2 separate regions of the Homo sapiens genome follow, and region 1 is linked to region 2. A link means that fine-mapping ties the variant in region 2 to the expression of a gene that starts in the linked region. Tissue or cell type: testis. Region 2 holds a variant in brackets; the other region holds the start of a gene. All regions are shown on one strand. Distances are between the middles of the regions.

Region 1 (10,033 bases), 300 kb before region 2:
AAAAAAATTCCAAGTGACCAGAGACTTAAATGACACATACTTAATAAAGCAATTTTGATGATACACAATAAAGTACTTTTAAAAGATTTTTAATCACAGTATAACTCCAAACACATCTTAAATCAGCAAGCAAGCAGCCAAAAGAAAAAACATTCTGCCTCCTATACTATTCACTCTATATTAACGATTTGATTTGGATTAAGGATCAATTCAACTTAGGAAAATAATTACTGGTATTATATTCTTCTAGACAGTATGTTGCTTCAGAGACATTTAAAGAACCTTTTTAGTATGTTTTATATGCTGTAGAAGAAAAATTAATGTCAAGCATGTTCTGCATTGGGTATGATGATTACCATTTCCTGAATCTATCGGAGCAATTTCCTCTTTTCTTTTTATTTTTTTTCTTTCTTTTCTTTTTTTTTTTTTTTTTGAGACGGAGTCTTGCTCTGTCGCCCAGGCTGGAGTATAGCAGCACCATCTTGCTCACAGGAACTTCTACCTCTCGAATTTAAGAGATTCTCCTGCCTCAGCCTCCCAAGTAGCTGGGATTAGAGGCATGTGCCAATGCACCCAGCTAATTTTTGCATTTTTAAAAATAGAGACGGGGTTTCCCTATGTTGGTGAAGCTGGTCTTGAACTCTTGATCTCACGTGATCCGCCTGCCTTGGCCTCCCAAAGTGCTGGGGTTACAGGTGTGAGCCACCGTGCCCAGCCTCTTTTTTTCTTAAAAAAAAAAAAAAAAAAAAAAAAGAGGTAAGGTCTTGTTATGTTGACCAGGCTGGTCTCGATCTCCTGGCCTCATGCAATCCTCCCATCTTGGCCTCTCAAAGTGCTAGGATTGCAAGCATGAGCCATCATGCTCAGCCCAATTTCCTCTTTTAAATAGGACATTTAAATCTGTATCTGTCATGCTATCCTGAATAGTTAGAAATGAAATGAGGTCCTATGCTTTGAGATAACTAAAAAGCTAAAATATATTAATTTTTGCAAAATGTCAAATATTTGCTTTTCAAATAAATTAAAAATAACTTATGAACTATATGCTGTACTACAACTCAGATAATATTTCCTCCTGTAATTTTTGGTTAATATACTCTCCTAAAACTTATCAGAAAAGAGGTAGAGAGATTTCTAGAAACCTAAAGATATCAAATTACAAAAGAAGCCTAAGTATCTTCTTTTCATCTCTGGTTCTGAATGATGGACAATTTTGAGAAAATGTGGTTCCTACCTACCTTGCTCTCAGGAAAGGATACAAACATTTTTGAAAGAGAGGAAATCATGAACTGTTGGTGTATTGTATCAAGGGAGCCCTTTAAAATATTTTATTATGGCACAAAATATTCTCTTATAAATAAAGTATAACAAAATATTTGGTGGAATTTCTTTTATTTTTTCAACATGGACACAGTTGAGTTTGCTCAGCTATGAAAGCTGAGCAAAGCCACCCCAGATACCTACAAGTGCTCAACAGGAATTCAGGAGGTTAAGGCTCAGTGCAATGGGAGGAGAGGGGCAATCTCTCAGCATCCAGCTCTTTAGCACCAAGCAATGTCTAATTTGGTAATTACAAATCTGACTTGTGAAGAAAATGGTTTTTCGTTCCAGATATATTTATTACAAGTGACTTGGAAGCTATCTCTTTGACTTACCTCCCCAAATGTTCCACTCTTTATTCATACAAAGTGTATTTATTTTGCTACTTAAGATCTGCTGGGCAGAAGTAAGAGGCTGTAAGGCTTGAGAAATTGCTTAGATGGAATGTTTTATCTCCCACCCTGTTTTCCTCTGCTGGGTAGAGACGAAGCCCCAAAATGTAATCTTGTTAAAAAAAGTTAGATTTTGTTTTTTTAGTTTTTTTTTGCTGGTCTACAATGAACTATGATCACTCTGAATAAAGACAGCGACTACTAGTAGCTGACTCTAAATTTAGAAATAACTTTTTTTAGGTCTAGGGAGGCATCTCAATTTCAGAAAAGTTAGTAAAGGTTACTGGTAAAATTGCTTTTACTTCTACTGGGGAAATTTTTGAAAAATATAATGCTAGGACGTAGAATGGTTAGTTGATTTCTCTAAAAAAACAGTAAATGGTTTTTAGAGCCCTAAGAGTGGTTAGAAAAACCAGGAGCTGTAAAATTAAGAAGTGTCCAAAGCCAATTGGTTTGAAGCTAGAACTAAAGCTGAGTTCTAAGGCTGATGTTCTTTCTCACTGGGGGAAAGAATTTAATTGACCTTGGAAAGCCACAGAATAGTGCTATCTGGCTTATTAATGCCCAAATATTCAGACACCTGCACCTCACCCTTGTGAATGCCTTAGGATTTAGCTGGAACTTTGAAAAGTAACTGAACCAAACCAAGGCTATAACTCTACAGGATCTCAGCATCCCAGAATTTTGCTGACACTCTAATAGAATAGATAACTTTTCAAATATCTCAGGAACTAGTAAGATAGGTAGTGAACAAATAAGGCTATTTTCATAAAGCAGATTTTTATTGAGTACTTATTAAATACTATGTGTCAGGCTCCTTCAGGCACAGAGATACAGATGAGGTTCTTGCTCTCATGGAATGTAGCTTCCATTACTGAATGGCATCCCGCTGATGGGTAGTGGAAAAGTGTGGGGATACTTTCAAGAGGATGCATTAAGTAATGGAAAATCTTGAAATCCAGGTGTCAGAAAGATTTTGAGATGCTTGATAGGAAGCTATTGGGCCCTATGAACGGAGGACTAAGTGGAAGGGGAAAATCACTTAAGTTGCAACCATTTTTTCCTTTCCTTCTTGATGAGCCTCTTATGTAAACCTGGCATTTGGACCATAAAAATATGGTTATTCTTTGTTAGTAAACCAAGGAACAATTTAGGTGGCATTAATTTAGTGAGCTTATTACCAGGCTCATACAGAAATCAATAAACATGTACTTTTTAATCAACCCCTGAGGTGGCTTGTTGCCACCACTAGTTATTCTGTGAGACTGGTGAATGTTTAAAAAGGCGTGGTGAACAAAAATACTTTACCTGTACAATGAGAAATTGTGCCCTGCAATTTTTAGGACTTTCTCAAGTTGCCAAGTAATTGGTTCTCTCACTGTGCATTGATAATGTATACTTTGTTAGCTTTACAGTTTATATTCTGCAATAAGTTACAAAGTTGTACCCTAAGGTTATCTTTGCTGCTATGATACATACAGTCCGGTTCATCAGCCTGGTTAAGGACAGGGTATTGTTCTCACAGAATGTCCAGCCTTATCCAATGTTCCAACGGACTTATTCAAAATAATTTCAATTTACAAAATCAATTCAGTCTCCGGTTTATGGTGACAGCAGTTTCTTTCTCTGAGAAACACTAAAAAGTTGCCAGCAGTTCCATTTGAGTAACTGAATAGATTTGCTACCTATTTCCTGGTCCATTCTGTATTGGGATGGAAATAATGTCGTCTTTCCTTTTTTTTTTCTTTTTTGAGACAGAGTCCCGCTCTGTCATCCAGGCTGGAGTGCAGTGGTAGGATCACCGCTCATGCAGCCCCCGAGCTCCCGGGCTCAAGCGATCCTCCCACCATTCTCCCCAGTAACTGGGACTACAGGCATGCGCCCCCACACCCGGCTGATTTTTAATTTTTTTTGTAGAGATAAGGTCTCGCTATATTGCCCAGGCCGATCTTAAACTCCTTGGGCTTGAGATCTTCCTGCTTTGGCCTCCCAAAGTACTAGGAGTAAAGGGGTCATGGCTAATTCTTGTTTTTTTAAATTACTAATGTGTCCCTTACAGATAAATAAAAAAGTAAAATTACTCACAATTCCACCAATCACTGAGAGACTTATTGGTGTTTATCTATCCAGTCTTTTCTGCCTTTCTCCATAAATCACAGTTTTTAAAAACGGGACCATACGGTACATAGTGTTTTGTCTCCTCACCCCCTTGAATAACCTTCACATTGTTCCATGGTATTTACAGTATTTACTAATAATGACTGTAAATGTAAGAGGTATATAACTGACTTTATTCAGGGCATGGCAAGCAGGAGTGAATTATTTTCTTCTTATCAACACAGCACGCCCCTACCGCCACTCATCCCTATAGTCGTTCTCTAAATACCTAAGTGACACCTGACCAGCAAGGTTTCAGGGTCCTTGTGCTGAAAGGAGCAGGCTCGCCTGGGGTCACGGCCCTCCGCTTCGCAGCAAGACCCCACCGCCCACCACGGCCCTCCAGTTAGCCACAGCTCGCTTCCCCCAGGACCGGGCCAGAGGTCCCGAGAGGGCACTCTGCGGACCTAGGGGCCCCAGCCTACAAGACGCTGTGTCCTGCAGTCATCCCCTTTACACAGCAGAGCCCCAATTCTGGGAAGCCGGGGTCACCCCGAGCCTCCCTTCCCCGTGACAGCTCGGCCGGTGCATCACCTTCCCTCGCGGACCCTTTCAGCATCACCACGCGTGGGAGGAAACCCAGGACGGGCGCCTGAGCCTCGGTGGCGGCCCACCCCGGTGCCGCGCGGCGCCGCGGCCGGACCGGCGCCGCGCCGTCCCCGAATGATGACGCGCTTCCTGCCCTCCCAGCGCTCTCGGGCAGTGCGCTCGCGCTCGCCCTCGGCTCTTGTTCCGCGCCCGGAGCCAGCGGCGGCGGCAGCGGCTGAGGCGGCTGCGGGAGCGGAGTGGTCGCCCAGCGCGCGGGGGGACGCGGGCTGCACTCCCGGGCAGGCGCTCTGCAATGAGACAGTAAATGCATCCCCCGGTAAGGCGCACGGCTCACTCGGGTTTTCCTCTTCCTCCAGCTGCATGCACGTTGCATGAATTTCTCGTGTCTTTTCCCTCCCCTCTCCAGAAGGAAAATGTGGGGTTTTTTTTCCTCCCTTTTGCTTCTCGTGAGTGATGCCAATGCAGGAAAAACCCGTAAAGCTCCCAGATTTGATGGTCTAGGAGGGCTTCTTGCAGGAAAATAAAAATAAAATGAAATTAATGCACCTGTCTATTGCACATGTATGTTTCACTGCACCGGACCCGGGCGCAGCGGTTTGCAAACAGCCTCGCAGTCGGCGCCAGAGAGCGGATTCCTGGCCGTGGGCAGCCGGTCCCCTCCGGGGCTCTCGCTGGGTTTCCGGTAACTGGGCTTTGAAAAGCGGCCCCGCCTGCATAGAGTGTCCCCTCGACCCCAGCCGGGCCCCCGCGCCAGAAGAGTTGGCGCTGGAGGAGCAGCTTCATTCCAGCACTGGCCGCCGGGACTCCAGCGCCACTTTGCAAACAAGTCTCCCGCCGAGGCTCTGGGCTAAGACAGCCCGCCAGTGCGGAGTTCCTTCTCCGGTGCCGGACACTCAGACCTGCCGATCCCACGACTGCCCTTTACTTGGCAATCTCGCCACGGGCGAACTGCTGGCCGCTGAGCGACGGGGGCAGTGCCGGGCCGAGAGCGGGGCCAGGCTTTGCATCCAGTGCGGCTGGCCTCACACAGACTCAGCGGCTCCCTCTCCTTCCTCGGTCCCACGAGCTGAAATTTTGCGCCCATTGGAAGCTGGAGGGACCTGGAGACGAGTATTTCGGGATCCCTGAGGGGACCGAGGAACGACTTTCGAGGGCGCCATATTTTCAGTGGGTCTTGACTGCGGAGGGGAGGGGGCGAGCAGTTTCTGGGTCCCGGGGAGAGCCCCGCGCCCCAGTCGGAGAGGCCTGATCGGTTGTCGCCGGGAAAGTTTGCGCGCCGAGGCAGGCGCGGAGGCGGCCGCACAAGGCGCGCACGACTGCTGTCCCCGCAAGGGCGCGCGGACTACAGCGCGTCGCCACGCCAGCCGGCGGGGCTTGGGAACGAGAGCCGCCGTCACGGACAGCGTGCTGGGCTTGCCGCCTTCCTCTGTCCCGCCTGGACCCGGCCTTGGGGCTCCGAGGCTCAGGGAACACGCCCCTCTTCCCCGCAGCTACCGCTGCCCGGGTGCTCAGCCGGAGCCGTGCGCTGGGCGGCGTCCCGGGGCTGGGCGCCGAGTGTAGAGCGTTCTCCCGGTGCCCGGGCTCGCCTGGGTGCTCCGAGGGGCGCAGTAGCTCACTTCCTGGGGGAGAGGAGGCGCCTTGGTTCGTGGATCAGGACCAGGGCCTGGCCTGTGGTCGCCCCGAGGCCGCCGAACAGCCTGAGCTTCCAGTCGCCTCTTTGGCTTTAGCGGCGACAGCAGTAGCGCCCGCGGCTGCGTGTTCTGCTCTCGCAGCTCGTAGAGGCGAGGAAAGGAGGGCGTTTCCAGAAGTTGGGGCTTCAGGTGACGCGTGGGGAAACTTGGATTCTTGCTGTCCTTGAAGAGCTGGGACAACTTAGGCCAGAATTCCTGTGTCTCATAGTGAAAACTTCTGGTTCTTTCCAGAAGATGAGAGAGGAATGAACTGAAGTGTTGGCGTTGTCAAAGACATAATTAAAGACGGTTGGGTAGGGATGATGTCTTGGAGAAGTGGTCCCCAAAATACACGTAAATTGCCCTGGTGCTGTAAGTACCACTTACTTTTCCATTAATAATACCTGGGTGTGTTAAGCTGTGGCATTGTAAGGTTGCACGCTGACCTCCCTTCTCCAGAGCTTGGAGGCAGCGACCTCTCTGGAGTGAGGGGGAAGCGGGAGTGGGGAATCTTTACTTTTGAAGTAGACTGTGACCTCTGCTTTGTGATGGGACAGGGCACGGGCGTGTTTGCCAACCTACAGGCAGCCAATTGCAGGAACGTGTTCTCCTTGGAGTGTTACCGAAATGATGTCATAGTATTGAGGTTTTGTCGGCACTTCCGGTCTTCTTCACTGAAGAGGCTAGAAGGGACCACAGAAACCTCTGGGGTTGGGGGTTAGGTGTGCAGAGGGAGGGGAGAGGCTTTCCTGTGGGAGATGTGCCTGGAGATGTTAGGTGTTAGGCAGCTCTTTCCCTGATTCATTTCATGAAGCGCCTGCAAAAGTGACTCCGATATGAATGTCAGCCAAGATTTTACCTACCTTGATTGCTTATTTGGGACCTCTATGCAAAATCAGAGGATGGCGGTGGGTGTGACAAGTGGTCTTGAGAGAAGAGGGATGCCTACACGAATGCCTTTTTTTTTTCATTGAGCACTAGAATAGTGGAAAACACCCAGAGCCCAAGATATATTTTTCCAAAATTAGCATAGCTAATTTAGAAGAGAAATCAGTTGCAGAAAGCCTCAATCCGTTTTAAGTTTCCAGTCTTAGAGGGAGCACCTTAATCACAGAAACAGGTCTCTTCATATTGGGGAAGCCACTGGTTTCTCTCTGCCTTTGTAACCATTTAAGTTATCAGGGAGATTCCAAAGAGTATTAGAGGGTCTCTCTTTTTGGCATTGATGTGGAGCTTCTACCTCGAAAGAGAAAGCGAACTTTTAACAACTTGACCCTGTTGAATGAGTTACTAGGGATATTCTGTACAGGCATAGGCTATATATGTGTTTTGAACTCATCTACTGCTGACTCATTCAGGTTTTTCCAAACACTGTTCCCTAGAGTATTTTTAAGTGAAATTAGGGTTTAGGAAGAGGTGAGTATGTTATTTTCTAGTCAATATCTGTCTTTTCTCTCTCAAAATTAACCTGATTTCCCCTCCTTCACCCCTCACTCCCAGAACATCGTTAGTTCTCTAGAGCAGTAAAGGACGATTACAGGTGGTGAATGATATAAATTTTTACCAACTATGCTCAGAAAAAAACTATGCATCTAAATAGGTATTTATGCATTTTAGCGTTATGCTTTGTAACTATGTATATGCCACATATATTTTATACATGTTAAACCTTACATAATAAAAAAGAGAAGCTTTATTGCAAACCCTCCAATCTTTATTCCCAAGTTTACTACCTTAATATTTATCTTTTTTTTAATGCCTCTCTCAACAAATTGTTATACATCGTGCTTTGTTGCCTCTTGCCTGATTCTTTTTTTTTTTTTTTCCGAGATGGAGTCTTGCTCTGTCACCTCAGCCTTCCAAGTAGCTGGGACTGCAGGCACGCACCACCATGCCCAGCTAATTTTTGTATTTTTAGTAGAGACAGGGTTTCACCATGTTGGCCAGGCTGGTCTCGAACTCCTGACCTCAGGTGATCCACCCGCCTCGGCCTCCCAGAGTGCTGGGATTACAGGCATGAGACACCGCACCTGGCCAACCTGATTCTTAATCATCATAACTTCATGGCTTGACCAAAATTCTTGCATTTTTTTCCTTTTAAGATTTTGTAACTTCAAAAGGTTAGAAAACGAGTATGTGTTTTGGAAAGTTGCCTGTCTGTTTACCAGTCTGTGTAGTGGTGTTGTGATGTGTGTGTGGCATGTCCAGACTCTTGAGACAGTTTCTACAACTTGTGATCTGTGACATTATTGCTCCAGAACTTTTGAGTCATAATGTTTTCCTGATGATTTTGAGTGGTCGTTGGCCAGTACAGGAAGTACTCAAAAAGAGCTAAATAATTCAGTTATTTTTATTAGGTACAAAAATTTTAAAGACAAGAAGGAAAACATAATAAGCAGGCCTGGAATTACAGCTTAACATACCCACTGGTGCCTTTTTAATTACAGTACTTTCCCCAGAACTTTTTAATCGTATTACTTTTATATCTAATAAGGAGACTAGTTAAAACATAAGCCACACATAACTATTACAAATAATAGGGATAAATGGTGGGTATGACCAGATGTTTTGCCTAAAGTTCAAAGAGTTAGGGAATGTGAACTCTGTCAAATTTCCCCTGCAGGGCCCACACCCCCTCCTCAATAACCTGGAGAAAGGCAAAGAAGTCAGGGTGGAGGAGGGGAAGATAACATGCTTAAGGTAGACCTCTCTTGTGTGTTGACCACCCTGACAATCTTTGGCTTGGGGCAGGTGCCATTTGAATAACAGCTGGTGGACAAGGTTGGGTACAAAATGCTTTAGTTGTGAGAGTCTTTATATGTCACCCAGAGCTATGAATTAGGACTGGGCTCATTTGCCACCCATTTCACAGTGGAGTTTCAGAGACGGTGCCAAGACCATGGTTTTGTTTTTCTCTTAATCAACAATTTAATTTCAGTCAAACTGATGCTGTTCTGAAAATGTAGAACAAGGAATGAACATTTGTATTTTCTTTTTACTCTTTTAGCTGCAGTTTTAACAAACTTAATTCCCTACGTCTGTTATTCACTCATTCAGTGTATGTTTTTGAGGGTTTACCATGTACTTTATGCTGAGAAGACATCCCCTGCCCTCACAATGCCCACACATTGTGTTCCGAGGAGGTGATACTCTTTTGTACTTTGTGTATCTAGTAGCCAGGGCGGGGGTGGGGTAGAGGGTGGGGAGATGAGAATGTGATGAAATAGTAACTGAAATACAACATTATAAAAAGATGAGAAAAGGATGTGAGCAGGCAGTTCCCAGAACAAGGGATGCAAATTATTGTGTCTCTTCTCACCTTCTCTAGTGGACAGAGAAATACAAATTTAAAAACAGATATTATTTCCTGTCCATACAATTGATACATCTTTTAAAAGGTTGGTAATACTCTCTGCTCGATGGGGCAGGGTGGGAATTCTCAGACCATTGATATAAGTGTGAATTGCTACAACCTTTTGGAAAAGCAGATCATTTCTGTGAAAGTTTGGAGCACACGTGCCATGTGAGCCAGCAATCCCACATTTGCAGCCTTGTTTTACATTAGGAAAAACATTGACATGTAAGAATCTGTGTGTAAGGGTGTCTGTTGTAGGATTTTTTTCAGTAAATAAACCAGAAGCAACAAATGTTCATCAGTAAAATGAATAAAATAAGGTACATCCATAGTATGGATTATTTTGTGAGGGTAGTGCATAACATAATTAAAAATAATACATAAAATAAAAGCTAGTTGCAGAGTATCATATGTATGTTGCATGACCGTATTTCTGATTTTTTATTTTTATTTTTATTTTTTTGAGATGGTGTCTCAGTCGCACAGACTGGACTGCAGTGGCTTGATGTGGGCTCACTGCAACCTCTGTCTCCTGGGTTCAAGTGATTCTCCTGCCTAGGCTTCCCGAGTAGCTGGAATTACAGGCACCC
Region 2 (10,033 bases):
ATGTTGTCTGAAAATTGGGTGGTTTCTAGCTTTTCACTATGATGTACTGTGGTTGAGCTTCATGTGGCATAATCTTTACACACATTTATAACTTTTTTTTAAACTAAATTTCTCAAAGCTAGCTGTGTCAAAAGTAAGGACTTTTTAAGGGTTTGGATAGATAGTGACACATTTTCCCCCATGAAGGCTTTGCTATCTTAAGCTTTCATCACTAGTGACCCGCTTCACATCTTCCTCAAATCTGAGTATTAATTTTAATAAGAAACCTTAGCTATTTTAAGTGAAAACTTATTTGCTTATTTATTTTAAAAACATTTTCTGTTCATATTCTTCAGCAGTTATTTTGTTGATTTATGAACACATCACATAGACAGTATATGAAGTCTATTGCCATTACATTCATTGTAAATATTTATTGCCCAGTCTTTTTCATTTTTTATGAGGTTTCTTTAGCTTCTGCTCTCCTCCCCCTGGTCTATCAAAAGTATGTATATTTTGAGTTAAGCATATTAATCGTTTCCTTTATGGCTTCTTATGTTGGTGTTTTTCTTAGGAAATCATTTGTCACCCAAGGATCACAAAAATATCCACTTGGATGTTCTTCCTAAATTATTAATCTGTCTCTGTCTTTAATTTGTTTTGGTATGAGTGTGAGCTAGGGTTCCATTATTTTAATAGACATTACTATATCTTAAAACATTATTAAAACTAGTTATAAAATAAGTTTTAAGAATCAGTAGATATACAAAATTCCAAAACAAAGAATCCAAACAGAAATATATTTCAGAGATTTAAAAAAAAGGGCAGGAAGCTGTGTCTCCTCATAATGAGAAGATTCTACTTTGACAGAGTTTTAGTTAAGTTAATTTTAAATCTCAGATTAACCCTTGTTTGTTACTCACTGAGTTGGCCACTGGGAGTGATAGTACCTGGAATTCACCTTTGCTTGTTTTTCTCTGGATGTCTTTTCAGTTCTATCCCATCTTTCTGGCATCGTCTGTTTTTGGAGCAAGCTGCTCTCCTGAACAGGGGGCATGATTTTGTGGCTCTTTCCAGTCTTCTCATGTCTTTGTTTGAGTTCCCATGCCTTTAGTTTAATGAGTTATTCACCTAGCCTCAAAATCTTGGTTTCCCTATAGCCCTACCTGTTTTGAAAGACAGTGTATGCAGGTGAAAGGTCAAAAAATCACTGATTCCCTGGCAAAGTCAGATGTATTCAGAAGAAGAGCACTGACTCTTGGTATCTCCTGTTTCAGGAGAAGATGAAAGGCAAGAACAAGCTGGTGCCTCGCCTGCTGGGGATCACCAAAGACTCGGTGATGCGCGTGGATGAGAAGACCAAGGAAGTGCTGCAGGAGTGGCCCCTCACCACCGTCAAGCGCTGGGCAGCCTCACCCAAGAGCTTCACACTGGTAGGGACTGGCAGAGGGCAAGGAGAGCACTAGCGTGGCCTTGAGTGATATTGTGGGGACAGGAGAAAGACCAGATTCTTGCCCATTGGGTTTCTCTGGCCTGGGAGAGCCAGCGTGGAGTGAGGAAGATGGTGCAAGCCCATGGGCAGGGAAGGGGATGGGTCCAGAAGTAAAAGAGAGGTCAGCAAGCCTGGGTTTCTTCAGGCACTACTGCTTCTCTGCACTCTACATAAGTCAGCCTCTAGTTCATTATCTAGAAAAAGCCACTCACCCAGATGATTCTCAGTTCTGTGTTCCTGATGACATCCCTAGCATATACTGAAAGGAAACTTTCTAGTGCTCTGAGACACAAAGGCCCCCTCTCTGTTTTAGATGGTCCTAAGCATTGTGATTATCTTGCTGAGGAATGTTTTCCCAGCCTGCCTAGAAAGAGAGCATAGTACACAGTGGAAATAACGTGGACTTTAGGATAGTATTATTATAGAAATCCAGTTTGTCATTTCCCAGCTGTGTGACCTTGTTCAAGTTACCTTTCCTCTCTGAGCCTTAATTTCTTCAGCTATAAAATGGTGATAGTCCTACCTACAGAGCTGCTAGGATTGAATAAGATGAAGATAAGATGCTTAGTATAAAATTTATGGAAAGTAGTGAGAATATGTTTGTTTCAGGTCTTCAGACCTCTGAATTCTTCCTCCTGATTTCAACATTTGTTGTTAGCAGAGTATAACTCTATGCCTTAACTATAGCCACATTTACATGTGAAACACAATAGAGCGGGTGGTTGGTAGGGCAAGATGTGCAATAAGAAAAATCAAAAAGTGCTAGAATTTGTCAGTTCTTAAGACTCTTGAAGTCTCTAGTGAATGCTTGAAATATCACCTCTTATCTATGCAAGATATCATAATAGGACATCAGAAAAAAAACTGTGTAAAGAAGGGGCCATGGAAAGAGTCATTAGTTATCTAATTTGACTATAGATTGATAGGTTCCTGCCAATTATAAGGAATCATCAGAAAACATACCTTCTTTCCTCTTGTAGCTGTAACATTTGTGCCTGTGTGGCCCTCAAAAGATGAATGTTCATACTTAGCTGTGTCCTCATCTTCCATTGCAGGAAGTCATGGATGATTTCTAAATTAGAAAAATCAAGAAATCAATATAAACATATTATTTAGAAATACTAGAAGCAACTGCTAAAAGAGTTGAAAGTGGTTACCTTTGGAGAGGTATGTGGTAGAAAGTGAAGTTGGGAATGGGTAGGACAGGGAACAACTGTGTTTTGTTTTACATCTTGTAATACTATTGGTCTTTTTAAACTAGGTCCAAGTATTTATTGAAAACAAAAATTTATTTAAAAAATGAATAGTTATGATAACCTCATTAACTACCTCAGGCAAAAGAGAGAATAACAGTATTTTGATTAAAGCATAACGTCACATTAAAGCCCATTATACGTAGTGATTTTTTCCTTCCTACTCCTAGCCTTTATTTAATTTCCAAGTGTTTAGAGGTTTTTCTGCTGTCTTTCTACTATTGATTTTTTAGTTTGATTCCATTATGGTCAGAGAACATACTCTGTATGATTTCAGTCCTTTTGAAATTTTAAGGTTTGTTTTTATATCCCAGGATATCCTTTTTGGTGAGTGTTCTACGAGTATTCAAAAAGAACATATATTCTGCTATTATCATGTAAAGTGGGCTCTATAAATACCAGTTAGATCCCTATTAGTTGATGGTGGTGTTCCAGTCTTTTGAATGAATATCTTTGTTAATTTTCTGCCTGGCAGTTTTCTCAGTTGCCGAGAGTGAGGTTCTTAACAGTAATTATGGATTTTTCTACTTTTTCTTTCAGCTCTCAGTTTTTGTTTCATGTAATTTGAAGCTTTGTTGTTTGATGCCTGTACATTTAAGATTCCTCTATCTTAACAGAGAAGTTGTTTTTTCCTTATGTAATGTTATTTTCTGTTAGTAATTTTTGTTTTTCTCTGAAGTCTACTGTATCTAATGTTGACATAGCCACCAATGCTTTTTATAAAACTAATGTGGGCATGATACATCTTTTTCCATCCTTTTATTTTCAACTTGCATATACTGTTATATTTGAAATGAATTCTTGTAGAGAGCATAATTAGTTGGGTTATATTTTTTTAATCCATTCTATCTCAGTTTTAATTGGTATATTTACACTATATTTAAGCTAATTATTGATATGTTAGGGCCCAAGTCTATCATTTTGTAGTTTTTCTGTTTGTCCACTTTATTTCTCTCTCTCTTTTTTTTTTTTTTTTTGCCTTTTCTGTGGGTTACTTGGACACCTTTTTAGAGTTTGTTTGCTTTGTGTGTTACGTTTTGAGCATATCACTTTGTGTAGTGTTCTTAGTGGTTATTTTGGATATTACCATGTCCATATGAAATTAAACACAGTCTACTGGTAATGGCTTTTCCCCCTTAAGTGTAGAAACCTTACTTCCATTTAGGTCTTTTTACCTACCCACTCCCCACACTTTTTGAGTATAATTATTTAAATATTTTTTCAGTATACACATAAGATGGTTATTTTGTCTATAACCACATAAGATGGTGTTACAGCTTCTGCTTTGAACACAAAATGTGATGAAAGAAACTCATGAGGTGAAGAACCGTCTATTACACTTCCCTTTATTTTTATCTACCCCATTGTTCTTCTTGCCTTTCTAAAGTTCCCAGCCTTCTTCTGTTATCATTTTGTGTTTGGAGAGCTTCCTTTAGCTATTTGTTAAGGGTACATCTGCTAGCAACAAATTGACTTTGTGTTTTTTTCCTCTGAGAATGTTATTATTTCCCCTTCATTCATGAAGGATAATTTTGCCAGGTACAGCATTTGGGATTGACAGTTCCTTTCTTTTAGTATCTGAAAAGTGTCATGCCACTTCTTTCTTACCTCCATGGTTTCTAATGATAAATTTGCTGTCATTCAAGTTGGTGTCAATTTGTAGGTAATATGTCATTTTTCTGTGGCTGTTTTTAAGATATTTTTATCTCTAGTTTTCAAAATTCTTGGTATGGGCTTCTTTTTTTTTTTTTTTTTTTTTTTTTTTTTTTATTGGCTGACCCCCCTTCCTCCCTCCCGGACGGGGCAGCTGGCCAGGCGGGGGGCTGACCCCCCCCACCTCCCTCCCGGATGGGGCGGCTGGCCGACCCCCCCACCTCCCTCCCGGACGGGGCGGCTGGCCGGGCAGAGGGGCTCCTCACTTCCCAGTAGGGGCGGCCGGGCAGAGGCGCCCCTCACCTCCCGGACGGGGCGGCCGGCCGGGCGGGGGGCTGACCCCCCCCCACCTCCCTCCCGGACGGGGCGGCTGGCCAGGCAGGGGGCTGACCCCCCCACCTCCCTCCCGGACGGGGTGGCTGCCAGGCGGAGACGCTCCTCACTTCCCAGACGGGGTGGCTGCCGGGCGGAGAGGCTCCTCACTTCTCAGACAGGGCGGCTGCCGGGCGGAGGGGCTCCTCACTTCTCAGACGGGGCGGCCGGGCAGAGACGCTCTTCACCTCCCAGACGGGGTCGCGGCCGGGCAGAGGCGCTCCTCACCTCCCAGACGGGGCGGCGGGACAGAGGCGCTCCCCACATCTCAGACGATGGGCGGCCGGGCAGAGACGCTTCTCACTTCCTAGATGTGATGGCGGCCGGCCGGGAAGAGGCGCTCCTCACTTCTAGATGGGATGGCGGCCGGGCAGAGATGCTCCTCACTTTCCAGACTGGGCAGCCAGGCAGAGGGGCTCCTCATATCCCAGACGATGGGCGGCCAGGCAGAGACGCTCCTTACTTCCCAGACGGGGTGGCGGCCGGGCAGAGGCTGCAATCTCGGCACTTTGGGAGGCCAAGGCGGGCAGCTGGGAGGTGGATGTTGTAGCGAGCCGAGATCACGCCACTGCACTCCAGCCTCGGCACCATTGAGCACTGAGTGAACCAGACTCCGTCTGCAATCCCGGCACCTCGGGAGGCCGAGGCTGGCGGATCACTCGCGGTTAGGAGCTGGAGACCAGCCCGGCCAACACAGCGAAACCCCGTCTCCACCAAAAAAAATACGAAAACCAGTCAGGCGTGGCGGTGCGCGCCTGCAATCGCAGGCACTCGGCAGGCTGAGGCAGGAGAATCAG[G/A]CAGGGAGGTTGCAGTGAGCCGAGATGGCAGCAGTACAGTCCAGCTTCGGCTCGGCATCAGAGGGAGACCGTGGAAAGAGAGGGGGAGGGAGACCGTGGGAGAGGGAGAGGGAGAGGGGGAGGGGGAGGGGAGGGGGAGGGGTATGGGCTTCTTAAGATTTCTTCTATTTGGAGTTCACTCAGCTTCTTGAATTTGTGGGTTTAAGTCTTCACTAATTTGGGGAAGTTTTCAGTCATTATTTCTTCAGCTACTCTATTTTTATCCAACACTGTCCTCTCCTGTTACTCTGATGATATTAATGTTAGATCTTTTGTTACTGTCCTATAAGTCCGTGAAGCTCTGTTTTTTAGTTTCTTTTCTCTATATTGTTCAGATTGACTAAATTCTGTTGATCTATTTTCAGGTTTACTGATTTTATTTTTTATTATCTCCACACTACTATTTAGTCTATCCTGTGAGTTTTAAAATTTTGGTTATTGCCTTTTTCAGTTCTGTAATTTCCATTTGGTTCTTTTTTATGACTTCTGTTTCTTTGTTTGAACTTTTTATTCTTTAAAATTTGCTGCAAGAGAATTTGCAATTTATTGGTGAAGCATTTTTATGATGGTTGCTTTAAAATCCTTATAATTCCAATATCTGATTTATTTCAGTGTTGGCATGAGTTGATGATCTGTCATTCATATTGTGGGTGTCCTGGCTCTCGATATGAATATTTATTTTTTTAAGACATCCTAGACATCTTGGTTATTAGGAGACCTGTTTTTTTTGGAGACAGTCTCTCACTCTGTTGCCCAAGCTGGAGTGTAGTGGTGTGATCATAGCTCACCTCCTGGGCTCAAGCGATCCTCCTCCCTCAGCCTCTTGAGGAGCTGGAACTGCAGGCTCATGCCACTATGCCTGGCTAATTAAAAAAAAAAAAATTTATAGAGGTGAAGTCTCACCATGTTGCCCAGGCTGGTCTTGAACTCCTGGGCACAAGTGATCCTCTCGCCTCAACCTCCCAAAGTGGTGGGATCACAGGTATGAGCACTGTGCCCAGCCCATTGGGAGACTTCTGATCTTACTGAAATATTCTGTTATAGCAGGTGGCCACTTTGTTCAAGTTTAGCGTGTAGTATTCTGGCCTACTTTTCAGGGCTTAAGTTGCAATGACAGTTTTATTCTCTGAGCCCTTTCATTGCTATTCTGGACTGATTTTTTCTTTTGACACTAAGGTTCCTGCTCAAACCCTGTTGGTTCTGTCGATGAAGGCAGAAGGCACTTCCCTGGGCTACCTGCTATTGCTGGGTGACCTTCGTTGCAGGAAGCAGAGGGCACTGGAGCTGAGTCTCTTTAAGCCACTGGCTAGAGGGCAGGGAGACACAGGGCTTTACTGTGGCTGCTGCAGCAAAAGGGTCAGACCATCCACCTGCCTGGGTTGTGGAACAGGGCCTGGGAGGGTCTGAGGTTTCCCTGCTCTGCAGCTTCCTGTGAATATCAGCCCAGGTTGTTGAGCTGGAGTTGGAGCTCCTGACTAGTTCCCCAAATTAGTCTCTCTTGGGCTCCCCTTCTCCTAGTTCTTTGACTAAAAGCATGCTTTTCAGGAACTGCTTACTGGAGGTTCCAATGTTCAGGCCTCTACAACTCTTAGTCTTGGGGGTATATGGGATAGGAAAGAAGCCCAAGAACTCAACCACATTGTGGTTTTGCAAGTTCTGAGCCCCCCAGCCAGTCTGTCTTCTCAGTTTTCAGAGCTCTTTTACCGTTGTTGAATATTGTTGAATAAATTTTAGGATATTCATTTGTATTTAGAGAGGAGGAGCAGGGAAAATGAAGTCTATGTCATATTGTTCTAGAGCTGGACCTGCTAGCCTTTAAAATGCTGATATATCTGATTTGGCTATATTTCCTCCATTGCTGTCTTTTCAGGATTTTGGGGAGTATCAGGAAAGCTACTATTCAGTACAAACCACCGAGGGAGAGCAGATATCCCAGCTGATTGCAGGCTACATTGACATCATCCTGAAAAAGGTATTTTGTATTGATGCAAATTGGAAAAGCAAGACGGCTTTATTAAAAGGCTTGGTTTCGATGACGTGGCTACCTTGAAAAAAAAATCCTCTTAAATAATACTTGAGGCCAGGCATGGTGGCTCACGCCTGTAATCCCAACACTTCGGGAGGCTGAGATAGGCAGATCACCTGAGGTCAGGTATTAGAGACCAGTCTGGCCAACATGGCAAAACCCCGTCTCTACTAAAAATACAAAAAAGTTAGCCGGGCGTGGTGGCAGGCGCCTGTAGTCCCAGTTACTCGGGAGGTGGAGGCAGGAGAATCGCTTGAACCTGGGAGGCAGAGGTTGCAGTGAGCTGAGATCACGCCACTGTACTGCAGCCTGGGTGACAGAGCGAGATTCCATCTCAAAAAAAAACAACAAAACTTGATTTACTAATTTAATCTTTAATCACTAATTAAGTGTGAGATCTTTGACCTCAAGATCCTTTGAGAATTCCTGCTTTTTCTGCAGCACATATTTGTGTCATTTACTACCAGGCAGTGAACAATAGCATGTCACTTAGCTAATGAATGAGCCTAGCACCCCTCAGCATCTTCCTCTCCACGTAGCTGTACTGTGCTTTTCAGCCTCTGTGGGAACTTGGATTGAGGGGCCAAAAATGATCTTTGTAGTTTTCATGTTTTTTTTTTAAACAAATGTAATGGGGTTATATGCCATAGTGGTATATAGAAAAACAGATTTCTTAAGGCTTCAAGATACAGCCCATTCAAAAAACCAAGATTTAATAGAATGTTAATATGTGCATCTTGATTTTTTACTATGTAAAATTAAAGTCTGTGCAATAAATACGTGACATCTAACTATATATTAAATCATATATTTCTCTTTTTTATTATTATGCTTTTGTTCATCCATCGCTTACTAAATATCCAGTATAAAGAATTTTGAGTAAACTTCAACACTTTGACTTGTGTCCCTTCAAAATGTTTTTTTAAAGGTCCTTGTATGAAGACCTGCTGATTTTCTTTCTTTTTTTTTTTTTTTTTTTTTTTTTTTTTTTGAGACAGAGTCTCCCTCAGTCGCCCAGGCTGGAGTGCAGTGGCGCTGTCTCGGCTCACTGCAGGCTCCGCCTCCCAGTTCAAGCAATTCTCCTGCCTCAGCTTCCGGTGTAGCTGGGATTACAGGCTCCTGTCACCATGCCAGGCTGATTTATGTATATATATATTTTTTATTAGAGACGGGGTCTCACTGTGTTGACCAGGTTTGTCTCGAACTCCTGACCTCAAGTGATCCGCCCGTCTCAGCCTCCCAAAGTGCTGGGATTAGAGGCGTGAGCCACCGCGCGTGGCCTGGTTTTCATTTTTGCATCTTGTTTTATTGCATTTCCAGAAACAAAGTAAAGATCGATTTGGACTAGAAGGTGATGAGGAGTCAACCATGTTAGAAGAGTCCGTTTCCCCAAAAAAGTAAGTATTATGAAGAGTACTAGAGGACCACCTTCTCCCTAGATAGGTAGGTTTCCTCTTGCCAGCTTGGAGCCTGCTGCTCTGAAGCCTGTCACCTGGAGAAGATGACAGCAGATGATATAGTTGAATCTTCTTCAAGCGTGGTCCCCAGACCAGCAGCATTGAAGTGGCAGACGTCTCGTGAGGGAGGCTGAGGATTTTAGGGAAACATTGACCAAGGTGTGGCATTTTAACTGCGTCTTTTGAGGCAGTAAGTGTTCATGAGTCCTGTTCTGCATTTCTGATTTAAATCTCATGATCGAATCATGATCATTGAGCCGTACCGTCAGGAGGTCAGAGGATGAGCCTCTGTTTGATTCTGGCCCCTTTTGTGGGAGGAGGGAGTGCAGCCAGTGGCGGAGTTACGGTGAAGCACTGCTGCATGCCACGCTTGTCTCGAGTGCTGTGAGGTAGCATAGTGCAGGCGAGTGGTTAAGAATATGGACTCAAATCTGGGGTCTCTGTTTCACTGTGTGGCCCTGGGAAAGTTACTAAATTCTCTTCTGGCATGAGCTTATCTATAAAATGGGGATAATGATATTACCACCTAAGTAGGTTTTATTTCCATGGTAGTTACTAATAAAGCACATAAAACAATGCCTGGCACATAGCACTTGCTATTATAACTATCATCCTCATGATCATTGTTTTAAATTCATGGTATTCTTAATTTAGCCCCATTTATAGATGAGGAGATAGGTTTATTAAAATTAAGTAACATCTAATAAATGGCTCTTTTTGGGAAACCTATCCAGACATCCCTTTTATGTTAATAGAGCAATGTAATGACTGTTCTTGTATGCTTTAGTGTGACATTTTGTCTCATCTGGAATTCCAATAACAACTCCCTATGCAAAAGGGAGGCCAGGGGTCTCAGCCAAGGAGCAACGCAGGAAGAAGTGGAAGGTCTAGCGATGGGGACAATCCTGACCATTCTTCCTGCTTGCCTTGATAAGACCCCACAGTGATGCTCTGGGCAGTGGAGG

Which allele goes with the higher level. Alleles are on the strand shown, and positions count from the first base shown. SD is a standard deviation of normalised expression in the study named.
For the expression in testis of the gene that starts at base 4,599 in region 1, allele A in region 2 goes with a lower level than allele G (small effect, 0.30 SD a copy in GTEx).

Evidence for each region. PIP is the estimated chance that this variant, and not a neighbour inherited with it, causes the effect.
Region 1: TLN2 starts here. The variant in region 2 is fine-mapped to the expression of TLN2 in testis (GTEx, PIP 0.92).

The regions. Positions count from the first base shown.
Region 1 is chr15:62,385,952-62,395,984 of GRCh38, forward strand. TLN2 (talin 2) reads left to right here and starts at 4,599. Exons shown (of 59, transcript NM_015059.3): 1 at 4,599-4,734. RefSeq lists enhancers at 4,019-4,088, 5,007-5,621 and silencers at 4,255-4,451, 4,499-4,828.
Region 2 is chr15:62,685,385-62,695,417 of GRCh38, forward strand. TLN2 (talin 2) reads left to right here. Exons shown (of 59, transcript NM_015059.3): 12 at 1,257-1,412; 13 at 7,456-7,557; 14 at 8,932-9,008. It overlaps LOC105370855 (a long non-coding RNA gene), which reads right to left and starts at 2,641. Exons shown (of 5, transcript XR_007064673.1): 1 at 2,435-2,641. RefSeq lists an enhancer at 5,096-5,950. The variant G/A (reference allele first, on the strand shown) is at 5,547.